Linked DNA regions of Homo sapiens. The protein of the gene in region 1 purifies or fractionates together with the protein of each later gene. This does not show direct contact. Each region holds a gene or a part of one and is shown on either strand. Other genes may lie near its edges.

Evidence for each region.
Region 2: the proteins of HACD1 (region 1) and CSE1L purify together in Homo sapiens (affinity purification with mass spectrometry; one large-scale study listed by BioGRID and IntAct). This does not show direct contact.

Annotation. Positions count from the first base shown.
Region 1 is NC_000010.11:17,602,896-17,608,263, forward strand, and holds part of HACD1 (very-long-chain (3R)-3-hydroxyacyl-CoA dehydratase 1), read right to left. Parts: intron 1,153-5,368; coding exon 1,035-1,152; intron 850-1,034; coding exon 831-849; intron 754-830; coding exon 665-753; intron 1-664.
Region 2 is NC_000020.11:49,093,463-49,097,528, forward strand, and holds the end of CSE1L (exportin-2), read left to right. Parts: intron 1-677; coding exon 678-824; intron 825-1,269; coding exon 1,270-1,501; intron 1,502-2,713; coding exon of another isoform or gene 2,714-2,725; exon of another isoform or gene 2,726-2,886; coding exon 2,887-2,976; 3' UTR 2,977-3,487; downstream 3,488-4,066. UniProt on the Homo sapiens protein: Export receptor for importin-alpha. Mediates importin-alpha re-export from the nucleus to the cytoplasm after import substrates (cargos) have been released into the nucleoplasm.

The DNA.
Region 1 (5,368 bases):
TTTTTTTTTTCAGACGGAGTCTCGCTCTGTCGCCCAGGCTGGAGTGCAGTGGCACAATCTCAGCTCAATGCAACCTTTGCCTCTCGGGTTCAAGCGATTCTTCTGCCTCGGCCTCCTGAGTAGCTGGGATTCCAGGTGCTCGCCCCCACGCCTGGTTAATTTTTGTATTTTTAGTAGGAACAGGGTTTCACCATGTTGGCCAGGCTGGTCTCAAACTCCTGACCTCAGGTGATCCACCCGCCTTGGCCTCCCAAAGTGCTGGGATTACAGGTGTGGGCCACTGCGGCTGGCCAGAAATAATAAATTGTATACTGACAACTTCGATTACATAATCAAAGAGGACAACTTGGATTGAAAAGAAACTTCTATAGAAAAGAACATTTTCTGCAGGTTATTTGACAGAACCTGAATACTGATTTCAAAAACTGGAAAATATCAAAGGAGAATATATTACGGATCTAAGATGCCAATATTTGGGTTTGTTTGTGTATCAAAGTCATTCTGCTAAGGCACTAAGTCAATGCACAACATCTAAAACTCAAACCCAACTCCTTTTTGTCCAACACTTCCACCTCCTGAAATATACAAATGTTAATATTTTAGATTCCTATGAATGGAAAGCTTTCCTGCAGGCTCAAGTAGACAACATGTTTGTGTCACTTACTGGTTTTATACTGTGAGTAATGAGCCACACCATAAAGATTCTTGAACTCACTTGGACCCCAGTCACAATCACAGAAGTAGGTACAATTCCTTAAAAAGAAAAACAAGTGAACTATTGCCCTAAAGGCAATTTATAATAAAAGTATAAAATTGAAGCAAAAACTCACCAATTAAACAGTGAACTATCTGTAAGCAAATAGAAAAAAATCATTACGTCAATAATAGAAAACATTAAATAAACCACTGTCAACATTGGCATTCAGCAAATCCATAGGTGGTATGTAATCAGCAAAATCATATTGATTTTGCACAACAAAAAATGTTCACATAAATATTACAGCAATAGAAAAACAGCATGATGGAAAACTTACCTCAAGCAAGGCAAATGTCTGGAAAAATTTAAGTGTCTTCTGAATACTTTTATATAAACCTCTGTGTGTTCCTTTTTCCATATAAAAACGTACCATGGCAATAGCTAGAACCAACCACCTAAAAAAAAAAAGTATTTCATAAAGTTCTTTCGAACTTAATACCACTGATTTATACATTTGTGTTTACAGCAGCGTTATTCAAAATAGTGAAAAGGTAAAAGCAACCCAGGTGTCCATAAGTGAGTGAATGGATACTTGAAATGTGGTCTATACAGGCCTGGCACGGTGGCTCATGCCTGTAATCCCCGCACTTTGGGAGGCCAAGACGGGCGGATCACGAGGTCAGGAGATCGAGACCATCCTGGCTAACACGGTGAAACCCCGTCTCTACTAAAAATACAAAAAATTAGCCGGGTGTGGTGGCGGGCGCCTGAGTCCCAGCTACTCAGGAGGCTGAGGCAGGAGAATGGTGTGAACCTGGGAGGCGGAGCTTGCAGTGAGGCAAGATCACGCCACTGCACTCTAGCCTGGGCGACAGAGCTGTCCGTCTCAAAAAAAAAAAAAAAAAAAAGAAATGTGGTCTATACAGACAATAGAATATTAGCCTTAAAAAGAAAAAGAAATTCTGACATATCATGCAACACGGATAAACCTTGAAGACCTTATGCTATGTGAAATAAGCTAGGCACAAAAGGACTAATACTGTATGATCATTTTTTTCTTTAAAAAATTTCTTTTTTTGCATTATGTGTTGCTGTCATCTTTAACAAAGAACAATTATTGGCTGATTGATTGAGACAGGGTCTCGCTCTGTCACCCTGGCTGAAGGGCAGTGGCGCAGTCTTGCCTCACTGCTGCCTTGACGTCCAGGGCTCAAGCGATCCTCCCATCTCAGCCTTCCCCATAGCTGGGTCTACAGGTGTGCGCCATCATATCCAGCTAATTTTTGTATTTTTTGTAGATATGGGTTTTCGCCATGTTGCCCAGGCTGGTCTCAAACTCCTGAACTCAAGTGATCCATCCACCTCAGCCTCCCAAAGTGCTGGGATTACATGGAGTGAGCCACCATGCCCAGCCTGTATGATTTAATTTATATGAGGTATACACAGGGTAGTCAAATTCATAGAGACAGAAAGTAGGATAGTGGTGGCTAGGGGCTGGGGACAGATGGGGCAATGAGGAGTTAGCGTTCACTGGGTGCAGAGTTTCAGTTTTGCAAGATGAAAAGTTATGGAGACAGAAGGAAGTAATGGTTACACAAAAATGTGAATGTACTTAATGCCACTGAACTTACACTTTAAAAAGTTAAGATGGGCCGGGTGCAGTGGCTCACACCTGCAATCCCAGCACTTTGGGAGGCCGAGGCAGGTGGATCACCTGAGGCCAGAGGTTTGAGACCAGTCTGGCCAACATGGTGAAACCCTGTCTCTACTAAAAATACGAAAATTAGCCAAGCATGGTGGCGCACACCTGTAGTCCCAGCTACTCCGGAGGCTGAGGCAGGAGAATTGCTCCAACCTGGGAAGTGGAGGTTGCAGTGAGCCAAGATCACGCCACTGCATTCCAGCCTGGGTGACAGAGCAAGACTCCATCTCGGGAAAAAAAAAAAAAAAGTCATCAATTAATATTTACTTAATTTTCACTAAAAACAACAACAACAACAATTGCTGAGCCACAGATAGAAGATCAGCCATGGGCCTGCTTTCAAAAAGGTTGTTTAAAAAAAAAAAAACAAAAGAAGAGGCCAGGCATAGTGGCTCACCCCTGTAATCCCAACACCTTGGAAGGTTGAGGTGGGTGGATCACCTGAGGTCCGGAGTTTGAGACCAGCCTGGCCAACATAGCAAAACCCCATCTCTATTAAAAATACAAAACTTAGCCGGGTGTGCCGGTGGGCACCTATAGTGCCAGCTACTCGGGAGGCTGAGGCAGGAGAATTGTTTGAACCCATGAGGCGGAGGTTGCAGTGAGCTGAGATGGTGCCACTGCACTCCAGCCTGGGTGACAGAGTGAGACTCTGTCTCAAAAAAAAGAAAAGAAAAGAAAAAAACAGCCTGGGCAACATGGCAAGATCCCGTCTCTACAAAAAAAAAAAATTTTAGAGGCATGGCGGCACATGCCTGTGGTTCCAGCTACTTGGAAGGCTGAGGTGGGAGGATCACTTGAGCACAGAGGCGCTGGTTGCAGTAAGCTATGTTTGTGCCACTGCAGTCCAGGCTGTGCAACAAAGACCCTGTCTCAAAAAAAACAAGAGAGAGAGAAAGAAAAAAGAAAGAAAAAAATACTATATGCCCTCGCTTTTAAACTTACGTTTGCATATAAATATAGCTTATGTTCTGTGAATAATAATCGTGCTTTAAATATAAGCTAGAGTTGTGGAGACCAGCTTTCTCATACTACTTCTTACTCTTCCTAAAGTCACCAATAAGAAGTTTATTTTTTTCCAGTTTCCCCTGCAATTCCAAAAGCACGTTTAAGTTTAAGCAACTTACCTCATCTGTAACTTTTTAAAAGCTCTAATAACTCACCCAGGGAAATGAGGAGCTACCCTAGTCTTTTAGATAGTCTCCAAAGAGTCTAGTAAGTAGATTTATGAAATATAAAATTATCATGCAGTTTTAACTTTTTTAATCAAAGAACACTCATACAGTGGACAAATGGCTTGAAAAGATTCCTGCAAAGAATCTACTAACTGAATCTGATGAAAATGCATTCTCAAGAGAATAATAAGATGGCAGAATGACACTTCTATTCTTAGAACATAATAAGGTAAAAGCAATGACTTGTTTATCAGATTGGCAAGAAGTCAAGTAAATATCTGAAAGGACCACAAGGACCTTTGAAATGCAGACATATTCATGATAATAACAATGACAATAATAAGTGTATTGTCAGAGTGCTTTCTATGTCTTAGACACTGTTTTCAATTCATAACATATTAACCTCAAATCCTCACAATAACCCTATGAGGCGAGGGTCTTCTATTATCCTATTTCACTACTGAGGAAATAGGCAGAGAGGGTCACACAGCCACCACTAAGCTCGGAGTATATGCTCTTAAGCCACTATGCTGTGTCGGTCTGGCTCTAAGTATATACTGTGCCCTGAGATACCAGTTAATGATAGCAATTCATATTTACATTATAAATATATTTTTAAAGTTATATGGAGAGTCTATGCTCAAATATTTTAATTGATAGTAGCATGCTATCCAAAAAGTTTGAAGGCCACTCTTTTAGATGAGATAATCATCTTCCAGAACATTCAGTTACTTACCCTGAGTCTTAGAGTAAGTTCATGACTGAGTCTGTAATAGAACCTCTGCAGTCTCTAGACTCCCTAGTCCTGACCCCTTTCCACTCTACCCCAGCTTCACTGTGGCTACAACTGATGGATCCATCTCATGTGAGCGCCAACACTGAACTGGACTGATCCTACAGCACTCATCGGAATCATGCTTTAGGTACCTTCCACAACTAAAGTATTATGATTTCATTATCTTCAATTCAAAGTCCCCATATTTCTTCTACTAAGAAAACAAAAAGTTTATTAAGATATTTTCATTCACATTTTCCATACACTTGTCTTTTTTAGGTGAACCCAAATCAGATGTCCACAAAAGATAAGTTTGAGAGGCAGTTATTAACCTACCAATCAAAGGAGTCATTTGGATGGCAAGTTTTCTACATTTTTAAACAGCATTGTATAAAAATCCATGCATCGTTAACATTATAACAAGTTCTACTGTTGCTCCATAGGTGGCAGTATTGTACCACCTAGCATAGTATCATGATCGTGCCACTCACTAAACTGTGGGAAATAAAAGAAATTGACAGGCTCAGGGATTTGAAAGGACCCATCGAAACATCTATTCTAACCTCTTGTCTGTTTTTCCTAAGTAAGGCCAGGAGCCAATTGAATCAGGGTTCACTTCCTAAGCCCTCCATCAGAAAGGGTGACAGTCAAAGAAAGTCTCTTTAAGGGTCCTATATTGAACTAGTTTTGAACTTCCTTCATCTATCGGTTTAGTAACTATAATAAAACAAACAGAAAATATTTCAAAAGCAACTGGAATTTCTGCAATTAGGATTTTTTTTTTTAGACAGATTCTCGCTCTGTCCCGCAGGCTGGAGTGAGTGGTGTGCCCATGGCTCATGGCAGCCTTGGGTTCCCAGGCTTCAGCAATCTTCCCACCTCAGCCTCTCGAGTAGCTGGGACCACAGGGGTGTACCACCATACCTGGCTCATTATTGTTCTTGCTGTTGTGGGGTTTTTTTTAGTAGAGATGGGGTCTCCCTATGTTGCCCAGGCTAATCTTGAACTCCTGGGCTCAA
Region 2 (4,066 bases), on another chromosome or scaffold:
ATGTAAGCAAAGACAGTTGGGAAGCTTATAACCCAAAAATGTTAAAACTAGTTGTTTCTGGGTGGTGGGATGATTCCTTTTTTCCCTCCTTGCTCCTCTCTCTTTTTTTTTTTTTTTTCTTTTTTTTTTTTGAGACTGGCCAGGTGTAATTTTTAAAGAAAAAAGCAGAGAGGGCCAGGAATGGTGGCTCACGCCTGTAATCCTAGCACTTTGGGAGGCTGAGGCAGGTGGATCACCTGAGGTCAGGAGTTCGAGATCAGCCTGGCCAACACAATGAAACCCCATCTCTACTAAAAATACAAAAATTTGCCGGGCGTGGTGGTGGGCACCTGTAATCCCACCTACTCAGGGGGCTGAGGCAGGCAAATTGCTTGAACCCAGGAGGTGGAGGTTGTAGTGAGCTGAGATCACACCGTTCCACTCCAGCCTGGGCAACAAGAGCGAAACTCCGTCTCAAAAAAAAAAAGAAAAGAAAAAGATTATGGCATTTGGCTACAGGGTAGAGGTGTGATGGGGTTTTTTTATGTTTTGACTTTCAGTCTCTTCAGATGATCAAAAACAGCAGTCTTGTTATTTAGTAATTTATCATATTCATAAGAAGTAACTAACATCTAAGCATTTTACTATTTCATTATAGTGATAATCTAATATTAAGTTGATTTATTTTGCTTTAATAGAATGTTTGGAATGGTTTTGGAAAAAATTATTATTCCTGAAATTCAGAAGGTATCTGGAAATGTAGAGAAAAAGATCTGTGCGGTTGGCATAACCAAATTACTAACAGAATGTCCCCCAATGATGGACACTGAGTATACCAAACTGTGGTAAGTACTTCATTTTAATATTTTTGTAAGTTACAGCTTCCTTCCCATATGACTGCAAAATTAACAAAGCTTATTCTCTTGGGGGCCAAGAGAATCTTGGTCTGATCTCAGCTTCTCCACAATCAGATCCAAGACATGATTTCTGGATCCTTCTGGGCTTAGAATGATCTTGTTTCCTGCTTCTTTTTCAGGGGGATTCATGGACCCCTTTAAGAGTCTGATCTAGGTGATCTCTAAGACAATTTTATGACAGAAGCCCAACTAAACTGACTTATCTTTAAGGGGAAGAACTGAATAAGCCAAGAAAAGAACCATCTTAATTTCAAAGGTCCCCTTTTATTCTTGAGACTATGAGTCTGTAATTTTGTGTCTCTGAGCAATTGCTGGTTTTAAGTCTTCCGAGTATTTTCTTGACCTTTTTATCTCTTGCTTTCTTCCAATCCAGGACTCCATTATTACAGTCTTTGATTGGTCTTTTTGAGTTACCCGAAGATGATACCATTCCTGATGAGGAACATTTTATTGACATAGAAGATACACCAGGATATCAGACTGCCTTCTCACAGTTGGCATTTGCTGGGAAAAAAGAGCATGATCCTGTAGGTCAAATGGTGAATAACCCCAAAATTCACCTGGCACAGTCACTTCACAAGTTGTCTACCGCCTGTCCAGGAAGGGTAAGTGTGTTGTCAAAGAACTCTGTGATAAATGGAGACTTTAATGGGAGGGCAAAAGGATAGTAGTAGTTCTGGTGTCTGTTTTCATTGGTGGGCGTAATAAAACTAAATCTCATTGAGTTACAGCAAGCTTATTTTCTTTAATTAAAAACACTGAGCCCTTTTTTTCTTGTATTATGTACTACAAATATATTTTAAGTGAATGGATTTAGGAGTGAGAACAAAGGAGGAAAAATCCCTTCAATAGAAATGTAATAAGGCTGTATAGTTGCATTTTGTCAGCACTTTATAATAAGAGTTTATTTCCCAGATCGAAGTAATCCATCTATTATTAAAATGTGGTAGCATTTTTTTATTTTTATTTTTATTTATTTATTTTTTTAGACAGGGTCTCACTCTTATCCAGGCTGGAATGCAGTAGTACGATTATGGCTCACTGCAGCCTCAACCTCCCAGGTTCAAGTGATCCTACTGCCTGTCAGCCTTCCAAGTAGCTAGGACCCACTATGCCCAGCTAATTTTTTATTTTTTTGTGGAGACAGGGTCTCCCTATGTTGTTCAGGTTGGTCTCAACCTCCTGGGCTCAAGCCATCCTCCTCCCTCAGCCTCCCAAAGTGCTGGGATTACAAGTGTGAGCCTGGACACAGTTATTTTTTTTTAATTGCAGCATACTCAGAAATTAATAGATCATGGCATAAACCTAATAATGACTGTATAGTTGCATTTTGTCAGCACTTATTATAGAGTTCTTACATGTTACCTGATAAAATATATATTTTTCAAGCCAGACACAGTGGTTTATGCCTGTAGTTCTAGTGCTTTGGGAGGCCAGGGCTGCAGTGAGCTATTACAGTGCCACTGCAATCCAGCCTGGGCAACAGAGCGAGGTCCCGTTTCTTAAAAAACATATATGTGTGTGGCGTGTGTATATATATGTATATATATTTTTTCATTGTATTATTACGGAGACTTTCAAACATATATAGAAAGAGCATAATGAAGCCTGCATGTGCCCAGCTTCAATAATTACCAATATCTTGCCAGTTTTGTTTCGTTTCTCCTTTTATTCTCTGTATTGAGCAAGTCTTAGACATCATACGTTTCACGCGTAAGTACCTTATTCTACATCATTAACCAGTAAGGACTTTTTAATTAACCACAATACCACTATCACACCTAATAATAGTAATTCCTTATGGATCTTTTCTTTAGACCTATTTTTGAAGGCATAAAAGCAGTTGAGTTTCTGGAGAATTTTTGGATGGTGATTAATGACTTGACTGGCTGCTCTTCCCAGAGCTGTGGCAGCTCTCCCGTAGAAGATGGGGTTTGTATTGGCGCACCAAGATCTCCAACAGCCAGTGTGTGTTTCCCATCTCTTGTAGGTTCCATCAATGGTGAGCACCAGCCTGAATGCAGAAGCGCTCCAGTATCTCCAAGGGTACCTTCAGGCAGCCAGTGTGACACTGCTTTAAACTGCATTTTTCTAATGGGCTAAACCCAGATGGTTTCCTAGGAAATCACAGGCTTCTGAGCACAGCTGCATTAAAACAAAGGAAGTTCTCCTTTTGAACTTGTCACGAATTCCATCTTGTAAAGGATATTAAATGTTGCTTTAACCTGAACCTTGAGCAAATTAGTTGGTTTGTGTGATCATACAGTTATGTGGGTGGCTTCTAGTTTGCAACTTCAAGGGACAAGTATTAATAGTTCAGTGTATGGCGTTGGTTTGTGTTGAGCGTTTGCACGGTTTGGATAATCTTAAATTTTGACGGACACTGTGGAGACTTTCTGTTACTAAATCCTTTTGTTTTGAAGCTGTTGCTATTTGTATTTCTCTTGTCCTTTATATTTTTTGTCTGTTTATTTACGCTTTTATTGGAAATGTGAATAAGTAAAGAATTACTTGTGTTACTTGCCAAGCAGTGCACATTTCATAGTTTCAAATCTGTAATCAGCAATAAAAATCCTAAAATATGTACCTAAGAACATCTTAAGGGCAGGTTTTCAGTGCTCTCTCATGCTTTTATAAAAATGAAGAATTTCTTTAAATTTCTTCCTTTTCCTTTCCTGGACTCTGTAAAATCCTAATTTCTAAATCATGTAAACTCAGATTATTTAGTCTTTTTTTTTATATGGGGGAAGGGGACATTAATATAGATTTGGGGCTTATTTACTAGAATTTTCTGTAGCAGTTCCTAGGTGGCAGTGTGAGTTTTGGGTAGGTGGCTCCTCTGGGAGAAATGCTCTGCCTCGCTTAATGGGATGGCGGTCGAGAGTACTTGAGACTGTGGATGTTTTGATCTCTTTCATCTCTGCTGTTCCCTGGAGAGTGGAGGTTACTTGGAACTTTTCAAACCCTGACACCTTAGAACCGTGAAGTCCAGTCCAGTGGTGGATCCGGCCGGATGCCTGGTGAGCTTGGTTGCACTGGCTCCCTCCCTTGGCCTGGCCCATGGAATTGTACAGCATTCGTTTCTGAGGAATGAAGAATCAGAATATCTAAATTTTGTGAGGCACAGTTTATGCTGGAATTGTTCATTGTCCATTCAGTGTAGTTAAACT